2 separate regions of the Homo sapiens genome follow, and region 1 is linked to region 2. Evidence: fine-mapped expression QTL. Tissue or cell type: whole blood. Region 2 holds a variant in brackets; the other region holds the start of a gene. All regions are shown on one strand. Distances are between the middles of the regions.

Region 1 (8,000 bases), 32 kb after region 2:
GATCCTCCCCTGGCCTGTCTGGAGCCTGGGCGGCCACAGGGACCCGGAACAGCCAGAAGGGGGAACTCACCCAGCACGAAGGAAATGGGGATGAGCTGGATGTAGCTGTCGCAATACAGAGTCAGTTTCTCAAACATCAGCTGTTGTTCTTCCGTGAGGGCCAGCCTGGGGGTGGGGGTGGGGGTGGAATTGTGTGGACGCAGCGAGGAGATGGCTGAGACTGTCCCCAGGTCTAGCCCGGCCCTGGGTAGGAGTGGGACTGCCTCGATGCTATCCCACATTTTCCCCAGCCCAGGGCCCCTCCTGAGGCCTGAGCCAGGTCCATGATGCTCCTTGTACAGCCCCAAACCCGGACAGGAGGAGGCCCCCTCCAGTGGTTTCTTGTGGGGAGAATCCTCACACTGGCCACTGGGAGATGTGTAGGAAGGAAGGTCCTGCTGCAGAGGCCAGTTTCAGACACCCTGATCCTTTGAATGCAGCCAAGGGTCAGTTGTTTAAAAGCAGGTCGAAACAGAGTGTTTGGGACGGGCACGGTGGTTCACGCCTGTAATCCCAGAGCTCTGGGAGGCTAAGGCAGGACCAAGAGTTCAAGACCAGCCTGGGCAACATAGCAAGACCCTATCTCTACAAAAAATTAGTTGGGTGCCGTTGCCGTATGCCTGCAGTCGTAGCCACTGGAGGCTGAGATAGGAGGATCACTTCAGCCCAGGAGTTGGAGGCTGCAATGGGCTGTGATTGCCATTGCACTTCAGCCTGGGTGACAGAGCGAGACACTGTCTCTAAAAAGAAAAAAAGAAACAGAGTGTTTGGCTTTAATGAGAGGGGTGAATAGGCAGAGGATTTTGTTAGAGCAGTGAAACTACTCTGCCTGATGCTGTGATGGTGGAGACATCATTACACATTTATCCAAACCCATGGAATGTACAGCCCAAGAGTGAACCCTGCTGTACGCTATGAACTTTGGGTGATAGTGATGTGTCACTGTGGGTTCAGGGATTGTAATAAATCTACCACTGTAGTGTGGGGGTGTTGATAGTGGGGAGGCTGGGGGCAGGGGGAGGAGCAAAGAGACACATGAGAACTCTACCTTCTGCTCAATTTTGCTGTGAACCTAAAACTACTCTAAAAAATGAAGTCTGACTCTTTTTCAGCATGCATTAGTGCCCAAGTAAAAACCAAAGACCAATGTGCTTTGTATTTGGTATTAGGAGGAACTTAAGAATTTTATGTATTTGATGTTTTATAATCCATTGTAGTCATTAGTGCTTTTTCAATTTAAAATGCTATCATATATTCGGTGATTATATCTGTCCTTTATTTTATTGTTTAGATAAATGTTTTTGGTTTATTGGTTTTTGTTTGTTTGTTTGTTTGTTTGTTTGTTTTGAGATAGGGTCTTGCTCTGTTACCCAGGCTCAAGGGCAGTGGCACAGTCATGACTCACTGCAGCCTCAACCTCCTGGGCTCAAGCAATCCTCCCGCTTCAGCCTCCTGAGGAGCTGGGTGGGACTACAGGCATAAGCCACCATGCCCAGATCATTTTTTGATTTTTATTTTATTTTTAGACGGAGTCTCACTCTGTCACCTAGGCTGGAGTGCAATGGCATGGTCTCGGCTCACTGCAACCTCTGCCTCCCGGGCTCAAGCGATTCTCCGGCCTCATCCTCCTGAGTAGCTGGAACTACAGGTGCGTGCCACCCCACTCGGCTAATTTTTGTATTTTTAGTAGAGATTGGGTTCACTATGTTGGCCAGGCTGGTCTTGAACTCCTGACCTCATGATCCACCCGCCTCGGCCTCCCAAAGTGCTGGGATTACGGGTGTAAGCCAAAGGGCCTAGCCAATTTTTTAATTTTTTATAGAGACAGGATCAGGATCTCCCTATGTTGCTCAGGTCCTAAACTCCTGGGCTCAAGTGATCCTCCTGCCTTGGCCTCCCAAAGTGCTGGGATTACAGGTGTGAGCCCCTGTGGCTGGCCCTAACTTTTTTTAAAGTACCTTGGTGCCCTAGTAAAAACCAAATGTGCCTTGTTGCTAGCATTATTAAGAACACAAGAATTTCATGTATTTGATATTTTACAATCCATGTAATCATTAATGCTTTTTCAATTTAAAATGCTATCATATATTCTGTGATTATATTTTATTGTTTAGATAAACATTATTTTGTTTGCTTTTGAGATAGCCTGTCACTCAGGCTGAAGTGCAGTGGTGTGATCATAGCTCACTGCAGCCTCGACCTCACAGGCTTCAGCCATCCCCACACCTCAGCTTCCCAAGTAGCTGGGACCACAGGCAAATGCCACCACTCCCAGCTAATTTTTTAAATTTTTGGTAGAGACGGGGTCTCACTATGTTGCCCACGCTGAACTCCCAGGCTCAAGTGATCCCCGCACCTTGGCCCCTCAAAGTGCTGGGATTACAGACGCGAGTCACTGCTACTGGCCTTAGATAAACATTTTAATTAAAAAATAATTTTAAAAAATGTACCATGTGGGCTGTGCATGGTGGCTGACACCTGTAATCCCAGCACTTTGGGAGGCCGAGGTGGGTGGATCACTTGAGGTCAGGGGTTCAAGACCAGCCTGGCCAACATGATGAAACCCTGTCTCTACTAAAAATACAGAAAAAAAAAAAAATTAGCCAGGCGTGGTGGTGTGTGCCTATAATTCCAGCTACTCAGGAGGCTAAGGCAGGAGAATCGCTTGCACCTGGGAGGCAGAGGTTACAGTGAGCCAAGATTGCCCCCACTGCACTCCAGCCTGGGTGATGGAGTGAAACCCTGTCTCAAAAAAAAAAAAAAAAAAAAAAAAGTACCATGTGGTTGGTCAAGTGCAGTAGCTCACACCTGTAATCCCAGCCCCTTGGGAGGCTAAGGCAGGGGGATTGCTTGAGCCTAGGAGTTCGAGACCAGCCTGGACAACACAGTGAGACTCCATCTCTCTCTCTCTCTCTCTCTCTCTCTCTCTTTTTTAATGTACTATGTGGGCCTATGAGTCTGTGTGGGATTCAGTAAAACAGGCCAGTTGAGTGGGGCCAGACAAAGCCTGGGCTCCAGGGGTCCTCCTGGGGTTGGAGGAAGGGTGGCTAAAACCCTGCTGGCCTGGCTTGAGCAGCCTCTCAGTCTGACTTCTTTTCTCTCCCCAGCCCCCAGCCCCAGCCTCAGCTCCAGTGCCCAGGACCTGGTCAGGAGCTCAGCTTAGTCTTGTAGTGAACTGGTACACTGGCCCCTGAGCTGGCTGGGAGGCCCCCAGGAGCTCCCAGCCCCAGCCACATCCTTCCCAGGCCCCCCGGCCCAGCCCTGCCAGCTTTACCTATAAATAAAGCGGATGATGTAGTAGCAGAGCAGGAAGATTAAGAACTCGCCATATAGCAGCTTGTAGATGCTGCCCCGCCAGCACAGCAGCAGGCGGGAGAAGGAGCCTAAGCGGGCATTAGCCACTTGGCTTGTGTAAGTGATGGTCATGGCCAGGCAGTGGGCTGCAGCAGGTGGGCTTGGGTCCTGGTAGAGAGGGACACCGATTGGGGGTTTGTAGGGATCAGAGGCCCTGGTCAGAGCCTGTCAGGACCCTTCCCTGCTCTGGACCTCAACTCTCCCATAGGGACCCTAGGAGGTGGATGAAGTGGTCTCCAAGGCCCTGCCAGTTCTGACTGCCTTTTGGAAGTAGAAACGCAAGAAAGTGAGCCCAGAGGCTGCCCTTTGCTTTGGCAGGGAAGACGTAGATAGGCGTGTGCATTGCCATGTGCCTTTAACTTTCTATAATCACTGGGCGCAGTGGCTCATGCCTATAATCCCAGCACTTTGGGAAGTCGAGGCAGGTGGATCACCTAAGGTCAGGAGTTCGAGACCAGCCTGGCCAACATGGTGAAACCCTGTCTCTACTAAAAATACAAAAAAATTATCCAGGCGTGGTGCGGGTGCCTGTAATCCCAGCTACTCAGGAGGCTGAGGCAGGAGAATCGCTTGAACCCAGGAGGTGGAGGTTGCAGTGAGCTGAGATCACGCCATTGCACTCCAGCCTGGGTAAGAAGAGCAAAACTCTGTCTAAAAATAAATAAATAAATAAATAAATAATACAATGACAAAGGCAGTAACAGCAGCAATGTCTACACACTAAGCTCAGGTCCTCTGGGCTAGGCAGTGTTCTCAGCCCATCTTGTTCGTTAGCTCCCAAGCTCTCTCAACCACCCTAGTGTGAGAAGTATGGAAGGGACCAGGCAGCCCTGTCCACCACCATATTCCCATTCCCATAATGGAACCTAGCTGGTAGAGATGCTCAAATGATGTTTACTGAATGGTGGCTCCAGGGCCTTTCCACCTGCTGATCTTCCTGCCTGGAGGAAGCTCTTCCTGAGATACCTGCATGGTTCCTTCCCACTCCAGGTTCCCTTTAGAAAGGATGTTCCCAACCATCCAACCTGGAAATAGAGCCCCACTGCCACCGGTGCTCTGTGTCTCCTCACCTTGCTTGATATTTCTAGAGAGCACTTATCACTACTTGAAATTATACAGGATATCTGCCTGTTTCCTGCCTGTTTCCTCCTCAGAATGGAAGCTCCTCTTGTGTTCTCGTAGAAGGCGCTCAATAAAAATTTACTGAAGCAGTGATTGATGCCCCCTCCATTCTTTCCCTGTGTGTTTTGCTGCAGCCACACTGGCTGGCTGTGCCTGATGCACACCAAGCTCATTCCCACCTCAGGGCATTTGCACAGACACACAGGTGCCCACACACCTGCGCATGTGCTGCCTGTGTGTGCATATCCCACACAAATACGCAAGATGGCCATCCAACCCTGAAGGCCTCAAAGCCCCAGCCCAGTCCACCTGGGGCACCTTGTACTCACAGGTGGGGTTCCAGGTGGGTCCGATGATCCCACAGAAGGTCTGGCGACTAGGCTGGTGGGACTCCCTGGGACTCTGTGGCCAGTGCCCCTGCCCACTCTTAGAGGCTGGCACTGCCCACGTGAGTGCTGAGCCGCCGTCACTTGACTCCCTAAGCCAGGACCTCCACAAAGGAGTCCTTGTCTTAGTCCCTTCTTGTAATCTGCTCAGAAGCAACGGCTAGCACAGCCTGGCCATGGCCCCTCTAATTTCTTCTTGGAGGGTGTTGGGCTGAGACCAGGGCTGGAATTTAGGGCAACACCCCCTCTACCATGGCCCTAAAATCCAGAGGCTAAAGGATCTGCTCCACCAGTGTTCTGACCCCTGAGGCCTTGCAGAGAGAGTTGGGGGTTAGGGGGCTGTGCTGAGCTTCAACTTCTGTGCCAGGAACTCTCCAGGAAGGAGGAGCCTCTGACTAGGCCCTGGGGTCTTTGACAGCCCTGTGGGCTATGGAAAGAATGAATACCGGGCTGCAGTCAACAGTCCTGGTTTCTGGTCCCAGCCTTGCCACCTGTGTGTGGTGACCCCGGGTAGGTTTCAGCTCCTCTCTCAGCCTCAGTGCCCTTATCTGAAAAGGATGGTGTTGCTTGGGAATTTCATCACCCTAGTAAAATGACAGAATTCTGCATATGCTGACGAGGAGCTCTGATTGGCTGCTGGTGACATCATACGTTATTCTGGCTGTGATTGGCTGGCAGGGCCCATCAGTAAGTTGCTTCAGAGAGATGGAAGGAGAAGCCTGCCGGGGCTGGTGGAGGGGGGTGAGTCTGGTGGGGGTTGACAGAACAGCCCTGGAGTTTATGCTGCTGGCTTCCAGCCAGCCAGTGCAATATGGGAATAAATGCCCAGATCCCCACGGGCAGCTGGTGAAAATCTCAGCATGTGATTCAATAAATTTTAATACATCAATCCATACTCAAGGGCTCTCCTAAGCTGTTGGAAGTGGTGGGTGTCTACCTACACACTCCTCTTGTATTGTTCAATGAAGAGAGCAGAGCTCTAGGCAGCAGTGGTTCTTGGTCTTTAGAGGCCGTAAGAATCGCCCAAATGTTTATTAAACGGGCAGTTTTCTGGATCTTTCTCCAGAGTCTGAGTCTGTGGCCTTAGGGATGTTGCATTTTAATCAAGCACTGCAGGGGATTATGAGATGTGTGGTTTTGGGACTAAACTTCCAGAAGCCCTGATTTTATAATATGACCTTGTGTCTTAAACCCACTCTCATCCTCCCTTTCCTGTCACCCTCTCTCTCTGAAATGTACTAAGCGTTAACTATGCTGAGATTGCAGGTGATTTTTCTACACACCACTTTTTTTTTCACTTTAAGTTCTGGGATACGTGTGCAGAATGTACAGGTTTGTTACATAGGTATACATGATGTGCAGGTTTGTTACATAGGTATACGTGTGCCATGGTGGTTTGCTGCACCTGTCAACCCATCATCTAGGTTTTAAGCCTTGCGTGCATTAGGTATTTGTCCTAATGCTCTCCCTCCCCTTGTCCCCCACCCCCACACACCATTTTTGCCTTTATATAATTATCTGCCTAGAAAAAAAAACACTATTTCGCAATGACCTTGAATACTTTTCTAATCATGGCAAACAATAAAGCTGTTGTTATTATAAGACTCTCTTTAGAGGCAGCCTTGTAGGAGTATTTACTGCCTCCCCGCTGCCCCATCGCTGTCCTCAACTGATATGGGGAAAGAAGCAGGTTCACTTCAGCCTCAGTCTCCTCATATGCAAAATGGGACAACGATGCCTACCTTGGCAGCCGAATGAGAATGATGGATGGGACATGTGTCCGTCAACTCTCCAAACCACTGGTGCCTGTGCCTGACCCCTACGAATTCTGATTTGATTGGTCTGGATGGACCCCAGGTGTTGGGATTGTTCAAGTTCTCCAGGTGATTCTGATTTTATGGCCTGTGCTGAGTCATTGCTTAATGGATTATTTCCCTATCCTGTATTCCCTTCCCAACCAACACATCCTGAAACTCAAGAGCTTTCCATTTAGAAGATGATAAATATATATTATATATATTTATATATTAACATATGTAAATATGTATTAATATGTCTATAATATTACAAATATATTTGTATGTACACATATATTTATACATATAAATATATAAGTAAATATATAACTATATTTTTGAGACAAGGTCACCCAGGCTGGAGTGCAATGGGTGTGATTTTGGCTCATTGCAACCTCCACTTCCCAGGCTCAAGCAATCCTCCCATCTCAGCCTCCCAAGTCGCTGGGACTACAGACGCACACCACCACACCCAGCTATTTTTTTTTTTTTTATAGAGATAGGGTCTCACTACATTACCCAGGCTGGTATTGAGCTCTAAGTTCAAGCAGTCCTCCCACCTAGGCCTCCCAAAGTGGTGGGATTACAGGAGTGAGCCGCCACACTCGGCCAATAAGTATGTTTTAACTAAAGTTAACACACATGCCTGGCACCATGCCTGGAACATTGATGCTCATTCTGTACTCTCTGAAGGAATAAATGAAAATCCTGCCTTTGTGGAGACAAGTTCTTGCCTTCCCTGTGGTGGCCACTAGAGAGCGTGCTTGACTAGCTGGCTCTGGCTGGGGAAGCCTGGTTCACTGGTCAGGATCAGTGCAGACCACGGAGCTGGCACTGCTTCATCTCCCTGACCCCGACCAGCAGCCATAGAGCCATGAGAGGGAGTTGGAGACACTAGAGTCCCTCCTCCCTGTTCCCTGAACCGCAGGCTCCTTGGCAATATCCCAGGAGTACCACCAGGACCATAGACAGTGCATGGCCAGTCTCCCTTCCCCTCCCAGAGGCCCCAGCATGTCCCCAGAGACATCCCATGAGCAGCTGCTCCTGGCCCTGCCCCAGAGCTGAGACAGGCACACCCTGGCACAAGTCATGGTCTCTCCTACTGGGTCTCAGCTATGAAAATGTCCCCAGTTAGCCAGGCACGGCTCAGGCACACAGCAAAGTCATGAGTGCTGATTGACCCAAGCCATGCCTGGAACAAGAGTCCCAGGATTGACCCCTGCAGAGATGGCACCCAACCCAGTCAAGGTCGCCCTCTTCTGCTTTCCGTTCCGCAAAGAAAATATTCGCCAAACCATTTCTC
Region 2 (8,261 bases):
GTAATGTCCTTGTCTTTTTTTTTTTTTTTTTATCTTTGTTGGTTTAAACTCTGTTTTGTCAAAAACTAGGATTGCAACCCTTGCTTTTTTTCTGCATTCCGTTTGCTTGGTAAATTTTCCTCCCTTACTTTTTTCTGCTTTCTGTTTGCTTCGTAAATTTTCCTCCATCCCTTTATTTTGAGCCTGTGTGTCTTTGCACGTCAGATGGGTCTCTTGAATACAGCATACCTATGGGTCTTAACTCTATCCAGCTTGCTGTTCTGTGTCTTTTAATTGGGGCATTTAGCCCATTTACATTTAAGATTGTGTGAATTTGATCCTGTCATCATGATGCTAGCTGGTTATTTTGCAGACTTGCTGATGTAGTTGCTTCATAGTTTCATTGGTCTTTGTATTTCAGTGTGTTTTTGTAGTGGTTGGTAATGGGTTTTTCCTTCATGTTAGTGCTTCCTTCAGGAGCTCTTGCAAAGCAGGCCTGGTGGTGATGAATTACCTCAGCATTTGCTTGTCTGAAAAGGATTTTATTTCTCCTTCACTTATAAAGCTTAGTTTGGCAGGATATGAAATTCTGGGTTGGAAAATTCTTTTATTTAAAAATGTTGAATATTGGCCCCAATCTCTTCTGGCTTGTAGGGTTTCCACTGAGAGGTCCACTGTTAGTCTGATGGGCTTCCCTTTGAGGTGACCTGGCCTTTCTCTCTGGCTGCCCTTAACCTTTATTTTGACCTTGGAGAATCTGATGATTATGTGTCTTGGGGTTGATCTTCTCGTGGAGTATCTTACTGGGGTTATCTGGATTTCCTGAATTTGAATGTTGGCCTGCCTTGCTAGGGTGGGGAAGTTCTCCTGCAAGATATCCTGAAATATGTTTTCCAGCTTGGTTCCATTCTCCCGTCTCTTTCAGGTACCCTAATCATTTGTAAGTTCAGTCTTTTTACATAATCCCATAGTTCTCAGAGGTTTTGTTTGTTCCTTTTCATTCTTTTTTTCTCTCATCTTTTCTGACTGTCTTACTTTAGCAAGTTAGTCTTAAGCTCTGAAATTCTTTCCTCCGCTTGGTGTATTCAGCTATTGATACTGGTGGTTGCACTGTGAAGTTCTCATGTTGTATTTTTCAGCTCCATCAGGTCATTTATGTTCCTCTCTAAACTGGTTTTTCTGGTTAAGGGCTCCTGTAATGTTTTGTCATGGTTCTTATCTTCTTTGCATTGGGTTAGAACATGCTCCTTCAGCTCAGCGAAGTTTGTTCTTACTCACCTTCTAAAGGCCACTTCTGTCAGTTCATCCGTCTCAGCCTCAGCCTAGTTCTGAGCCCTTGCTGGAGAGGTGTTGCAATCATTTGTAGGAGAAGAAGCACTCTGGCTCTTTTGAGTTTTCAGCAATTTTTCATTGATTTTTTTCTCATCTTCATGAGTTTATCTAGCTTCGAGCTTCAAGGCTGCTGACCTTTGGATGGGGTTTGCGTGGGGACTTTTTTGTTGATGCTGTTTTTGTTTTTTCTTTCCGTTTGTTTGTTTTTCTTTTAACAGTCAGGCCAAAAAGCATATGAAAAGATGCTCACCGTCTTTTTTTTCAAGCGTATGAAAAGATGTTCACTAATCACCAGGGAATTGCAAATCAAAACCACAATGAGCTATCACCTTATGCCCATTGGAATAGCTACTATCAAAAAAACAAAAAGTGGGCTGGGTGCAGTGGCTCACGCCTGTAATCCCAGCACTTTGGGAGGCCGAGGCGGGCAGATTACCAGTTCGGCAGATTATGAGGTCAGCAGTTTGAGACCAGCCTGGCCAACATAGTGAAACCCTGTCTCTACTAAAACTACAAAAAAAAAAAAAATCAGGTGGGTGTGGTGGTGGGTGGCTGTAATCCCAGCTACTTGGGAGGCTGAGGCAGGAGAATCACTTGAACCCGGGAGGTGGAGGTTGCAGTGAGCTGAGACCGAGCCACTGCACTCCAGCCCAGGCAACAGTGCGACACTCTGTCTAAAAAAAAAAAAAAAAAAAAAAAAATTATCAAGTGTCAGTGAGGATGCGGAAAAACTGGAACTCTTGCAAACTGTTGGTAGGATTGTAAAATGGTGTACTGCTATGAAAAATGATATGGAGGCTCCTCAAAAAATTAAAAATAGAACTACCATATGATACTGCAATCCCACTTCTGAGTATATATCCTAAAGAATAAAAAACAGGATCTCAAAGAGATATCTGCATCCCCATGTTCATTATGACATTATCCACAATAGCCACGATGTGGAAGCAACCTAAATTTCTGTGGATGGATGAATGGATTTAAAAAACGTAGTATATACATACAATGAAATGTCATTCAGTCTTTTTTAAGAACCAGAAATCCTGTCATATACTATACCAACGATAACCCTGAAGACATCATGCTAAATGAAATAAGCCAATCACAAAAGGGGAAATATTGCATGATTCCACTTATAAGAAGTACCTAAAGTAATCAAATTCATAGAGACAGAAAGCAGAATGGTGGTTTCCAGGAGCTGAGGGGAGGGGAAATGGGGAGTTGTTGCTCAACGGGATGGAGTTTCAGCCATGGAAGAGAAAAAAGTCTGGGAGAACTCTCGTACAACAATGTACATATAGTTAGCAATATTGTGACGTACACTTAAAAGTTGTTAAGAGAGGGCTGGTGCAGTGGCTCACGCCTATAATCCCAACACTTTGGGAGGCCAAGGCGGCAGGATTGCTTGAGCCCAGCAGTTCAAGAACAGCCTGGGCAATATGGAAACACCTCTTCTCTACTAAAAATCAAAAAAGAGGCCAGGCGCGGTGGCTCATGCCTGTAATCCCAGCACTTTGGGAGGCAGAGATGGGCAGATCACCTGACCAACATGGAGAAACCCCGTCTCTACTAAAAATACAAAATTAGCCAGGCGTGGTGGCACATGCCTATAATCCCAGCTACTCGGGAGGCTGAGGGAGGAGAATCACTTGACCGGGAGGCAGAGGTTGCGGTGAGCCAAGATCGCGCCACTGCGCTCCAGCCTGAACAACAAGAGCGAAACTCCATCTCAAAAATAAAAAAATAAAAATAGTTAGCCAGGTGTGGTGGCACACACCTATAGTCCCAGCTACTCAGGAGGCTGAGGTGGGAGGATTGCTTGAGCCCAGAAGGTCGAGGTTGCAGTGAGCCATGTATGTGCCACTGCACTCCAGCCTGAGTGACAGAGCTAAACCCTGTCTCAAAAAAGGAAAAAAAAAAAAAAAAATAACAGAAGGGAGTCACCACACTGAGGCTAAGAGGCAGCTACAGCCCCTGGCCCTTTCACTCTTGCACCCCAGGATCATTGCTGAATTGACTTGGTTTGGGTATTTTACCTTCCTTAGCAAGGAAAGGGCACTTCCATTGGCAGGCTCTTCCATGGCTCTTTCAGGCTCTCAGGCTGCTCATCTGAATCCCACTGTGCCCCTTCCACACGTCTCTGCTGAGCCTATCTTTCTGGGCTACTGTGAACACAAGCTCTGGCTTAGCCATCTCTACTCCTCCAGAGCTTGGCTGCAAGCTTGGCTTAGAGTGGGCAGCCAACCAGTGTCAAATGGATCCCAAAGAAATTGGGTTTACTCGGCTCAATGGCAAGACTCAGTTAAGCCCCTCCAGTCTCCCCAGCTGGAAGAAATGCCCCTTCAGCAAAGAACACAGGGGAGAAATAGAGGTGACATTATCTCCAATTGACAAGTGACTACACAGAGGTCCAGAGAAGTTGGCAGCTTGTCCAAGGTCACCCAGCTAGTTAATGGCAGAGCTGGGACCAGCTTCCACAGTCCTGGCTCCAGGCCTGGTGTTCCTTCAGGGACACACACACAAATCACCATCACTGCCCTCAAACAGGCAGATTTCTCTATTAGGCAAGACAGGCCCAGGCCTAGTGCCTATGAGCTTTACAAGGGTCCAAGAAAATGTACTGGCTCCTAAATTTAAAAAGAAAACAGCAAAATTAATAAAAGTAAATGTTTATGAGCTGTAAAGCTGTCATCTGCAGTTGAGCTCAGGTCTTCTTTACTTATTTTTCGCTTATAACCAAGTGCCCCCATTTTTCTATGAAAAAGAGAATGGAAGCCAGGTGCAGTGGCTCACACCTGTAATCCCAGCACTTTGGGAGGCCGAGGTGGGTGGATCACCTAAGGTCAGCAGTTCGAGACCAGCCTGGCCAACATGGTGAAACTCCGTCTCTACTTAAAATACAAAAATTAGCTGGGTGTGGCGGCATTCGCCTGTAATCCCAGCTACTTGGGAGGCTGAGGCAGGAGAATCACTTAACCCAGGAGGCAGAGGTTGCAGTGAGCCAAGATCACGCCATTGCACTCCAGCCTGGGGAACGAGAGTGAAACTCTGTCAGAAAAAAAAAAAGAAAGAAAAGCCAGGCACGGTGGCTCACGCCTGTAATCCCAGCACTTTGGGAGGCCGAAGCAGGCGGATCACGAGGTCAGGAGATTGAGATCATCCTGGCTAAAATGGTGAAACCCCGTCTCTACTAAAAATACAAAAAATTAGGTGGGCGTGGTGGCAGGCGCCTGTAGTCCCAGCTACTTGGGAGGCTGAGACAGAAGAACGGCGTGAATCCGGGAGGCGGAGCTTGCAGTGAGCCAAGATTGTGCCACTGCACTCCAGCCTGGGCAACAGAGCGAGACTCCATCTAAAAAAAAAAAAAAAAAAAAACAAAGAAAGAAGAAAGACAGAGAGAGAGGAAGGAAGCAAGAAGGAGTTATTTTTAATTATTTTTTCTCTTCTCTTTCCTCTATTTCCCTATTATCTACATCCCACTTGTCCCTTTAGAAATGCAGTTATAACCTTTCACTTTCCCTTCACCAGACACTCCCTACAGGGCAAGTTTATCTAACTTCGTGCTTAGAAGCTCCAGGGTGGAACTCTGTCCCACCAGGGGACTGCCTTGAGAGACAACAGTCCATTTACAACCCAAAGCATGCCTGCTATGAAACTCTCTCCCACCTGGAGAGTTTTGGCCACCTTCACAACCCAGTTCTGTCCTCAAAGACGCCAACTCTCGGCCACCTGGTAGATAAGGCACCAAAGCAAGTACACAGCCCCCCACCTGCCTGCTTCCTCCC[A/G]TGTGCCATTCATGTCTGTGTGCCAGGCACCCTTTAAAAGTACCCACCTTCCACGCCAAAAGTGAAGTGATACTCTTTTTTTTTTTTTTAGAAGGAGTCTTGCTGTGTTGCCCAGACTGAGTACAGTGGCATGATCTCAGCTCACAGCAACCTCTGCCTCCTGGGTTCAAGTGATTCTCCTGCCTCAGCCTCCTGGGTAGCTGGGATTATAGGCACCTGCCACCATGCCTGGCTAATTTTTGTATTTTTAGTAGAGATAGGGTTTCACCATGTTGGCCAGGCTGTCTCGAACTCCTGACCTCAGGTGATCTGCCTGCCTGTGCCTCCCAAAGTGCTGGGATTACAGGCATGAGCCACTGCGCCCAGCCCAAAGTGGTAGCCTTTTTTGTTTTTGCTTTGTTTTGCTTTGATTGTTTTTGAAACAGAGTTTTTCTCTTGTGGGCCAGGCTGGAGTGCAATGGCGTGATCTCAGCTCACCACAACCTCCGCCTCCTGGGTTCATGTGACTCTCCTGTCTCAGCCTCCCGAGTAGCTGGGATTACAGGCATGCGCCACTACGCCTGGTTAATTTTGTATTTTTAGTAGAGAAGGGGTTTCTCCATGTTGGTCAGGCTGGTCTTGAACTCCCGACCAAGATGATCCACCCGCCTTGGCCTCCCAAAGTGCTGGGATTACAGGCTTGAGCCACCTCGCCCAGCCCCAAGGTGGTACTCTTAAGGTAAGAAGCCTGTACCTCTTCCCCTAAGCTAGTTTTGAAATAAAAAGTCACTTTACTTATACCAGACCTCACTCTTATTATTTGGACTCTGCAAGTGGCAGGCAACTGAACCTGTGTTTTGGTTACAATGCTGCATGTGGAATGTGGGCATGTTTTAACGTGTTTGCCCTGATGTGCAGTGGGGCCTCCCAAATCTGAGTGCTGGGCTCCTAGAGGTCTTCACACAGATCCACATACAGCTCTGAAGTCTGAATGGTGCAGGCCTGAGTGTCCCAGCTGAGGTCACTGTACTCTGGTAAAATCAGACACCAGCAAGCGAGAGCAGAGAGCAATTGGTAAAAACTCTTCCTGTCTCCAGTGAGCCCTGGGGCCCAATGCCATTCAGAAGTGCTCATCAACTCCATTTCCTTAATTTGCTTAAACAACCATTAAGATTTAGACACTCCAAGAGGCAGTACTGGCTCAAGCAAGACCCAGTCAGACAAAGCTCAAGACCTTTTCACAATGCTTGTGAGATGCGGCAGGGCAGGGGGTCCTAACTTTACCCCTGGAAGAAGGAAGCCTGCAGCTCTGGAGGATGCTGGAAGACAGCCAGAGGATGAAGCCCGGTGGATGGGAGCGGATCTGAGAGAATCACAGAGAAACGGGGCCCGAGCCCTGATGGAACCACGTCTAAAGTCCACCTCGTCTGGGCTTTTCAACTCCACAAGTCAATAAATCCCCCTTGTTGCTTAATCTATTGTGGGTTGGGTTTTGTTGCTTGAAAGCAAAATCATCCCGACTGATGTGAGACCTCCCAGCTCTCTCCTCCATCCACCCAGGGCACCATCTCAGAAGCCATGTCTCTCCAGAGCGATTTTCCCTGGAGTATTTTTCACAGGGGTTGGTCTGGAGGCAACTGCACTCAGCCCTTCCATCCTAACACTGACAGTGATGACAGCCCATCTGAAATTCAGGACCTTTTCAGAAATATCCTCCTTCCCTGGGAACGGCAGAGAGTAAGGACATGCAAGAAGCCTGGCTCGGGTGGGATATCTGTGCCAAGGACTGATCACACAGCAAGACAGAGCTGCAGCATCCAGCATTTTTATTTATTTATTTTTTTGAGACGGAGTTTCACTCTTTTTGCCCAGGGTGCAGTGCAATGGTGCGATCTCAACTCACCGCAACCTCCGCCTCGTGGGTTCAAGCGATTCTCCTGCCTCAGCCTCCCGTGTAGCTGGGGTTACAGGTGCATGCCGCCACGTCTAATTTTGTATTTTTAGTAGAAACGGGGTTTCACCATGTTCGCCAGTCTAGTCTCAAACTCCTGACCTCAGGTGATCCGCCCGCCTCAGCCTCTCAAAGTGCTGGGATTACAGGCGCGAGCCACCGCGCCCAGCCCAGCATCCAGCATTTTTGTTGTTCCCCCTTATTCCCTCCATGCCTTGCTAGGGATAACCTGGTAAACAAACAGAAATCTCAAATTCAATAAGCACCCCCATTTGATAAGCATTTACTAAATCCCCATATGGGAGGCACCATGGGCAAACAGTGGAATGACAAGTGGATAACAGGATGGAGCCGAATGATCTGGGCAGTGGGTGGGGACAAGGAGCGGTTCAGAGTGTGGGCTCTGGACTGGAACAGCAGGTGTGTGTCCTTGGGCAAGGTACTTTGTAGTTCTGTGCTTCAGTTTCCTCATCTGTCGAATGACATGTTTGGCCTATGTAGTAAGGGGTCAAGAAGTATCTGCTTTTATTAATAAGTATTAGTTTTTATTCTTACTTGATTCATTTTTAAGAAAAGAGTCTGAGTCTAACCCACCCAGCTGGGTGGAGCTTGGGCCTGAGGACCCCTGCCCTTGGAATACAGGAGTTTTGGGCTAAAGAGCTGACCAAGCTGGTTGGGCTTAAGGCAAACTCCAGAGACCAGTTCCAACTCCCGAGGCTCCCATTCCAGGCTCTTAAGGGGAAACTGCAGGATGGGCCCTCCGTTACCTGGAGTTAAGTGCAAAGAACCATCTCTCACGGGGCAGTACTGGCTCAAGCGAGACCCAGTCAGACAAAGCTCAAGACCTTTTCACAACGCTTGTGAGATGGGGCAGGGCAGGGGGTCCTAACTTTACCCCCCGTTTCGCCCCCCAGCAGGGCAAGGATTCCCCTTTCTCACGATGATTCAATCACATCCAACCAGAGTCTTAGCTGAGGCCCTGCCAGGTGCCAGGGCCTGGTCCCATTCCTGGGAGCAGAGATGAAGACCAGCTTCCTACAAGCCTCCTATGATGCCTTCCTACGAGCCTCCCCTATGATGATGCAATGGCACAGGGCCTCCTGTCACTCAGTAAAGGCCGAAGGAATAAACATTAGCAGGAATAAGAGACAAGCTCTGAATCCAGGAAGACTTCTCGGCAGAGGCAGGATCTGGACTGCAGCTTGGAGAAAGGGTGGATCTTTGATAGATAAAAG

What was found. PIP is the estimated chance that this variant, and not a neighbour inherited with it, causes the effect.
Region 1: BEST1 starts here. The variant in region 2 is fine-mapped to the expression of BEST1 in whole blood (TOPMed, PIP above 0.99).

Annotation. Positions count from the first base shown.
Region 1 is chr11:61,947,272-61,955,271 of GRCh38, reverse strand. It overlaps BEST1 (bestrophin 1), which reads right to left and starts at 4,921. Exons shown (of 11, transcript NM_004183.4): 1 at 4,845-4,921; 2 at 3,314-3,501; 3 at 71-165. The coding sequence starts at 3,465. It overlaps LOC107984334 (a long non-coding RNA gene), which reads left to right. Exons shown (of 2, transcript XR_001748245.2): 2 at 1-1,353.
Region 2 is chr11:61,979,130-61,987,390 of GRCh38, reverse strand. No RefSeq gene overlaps it. Among named protein-coding and RNA genes, the nearest start is that of FTH1, 16 kb to the right of the region's middle. The variant A/G (reference allele first, on the strand shown) is at 5,097.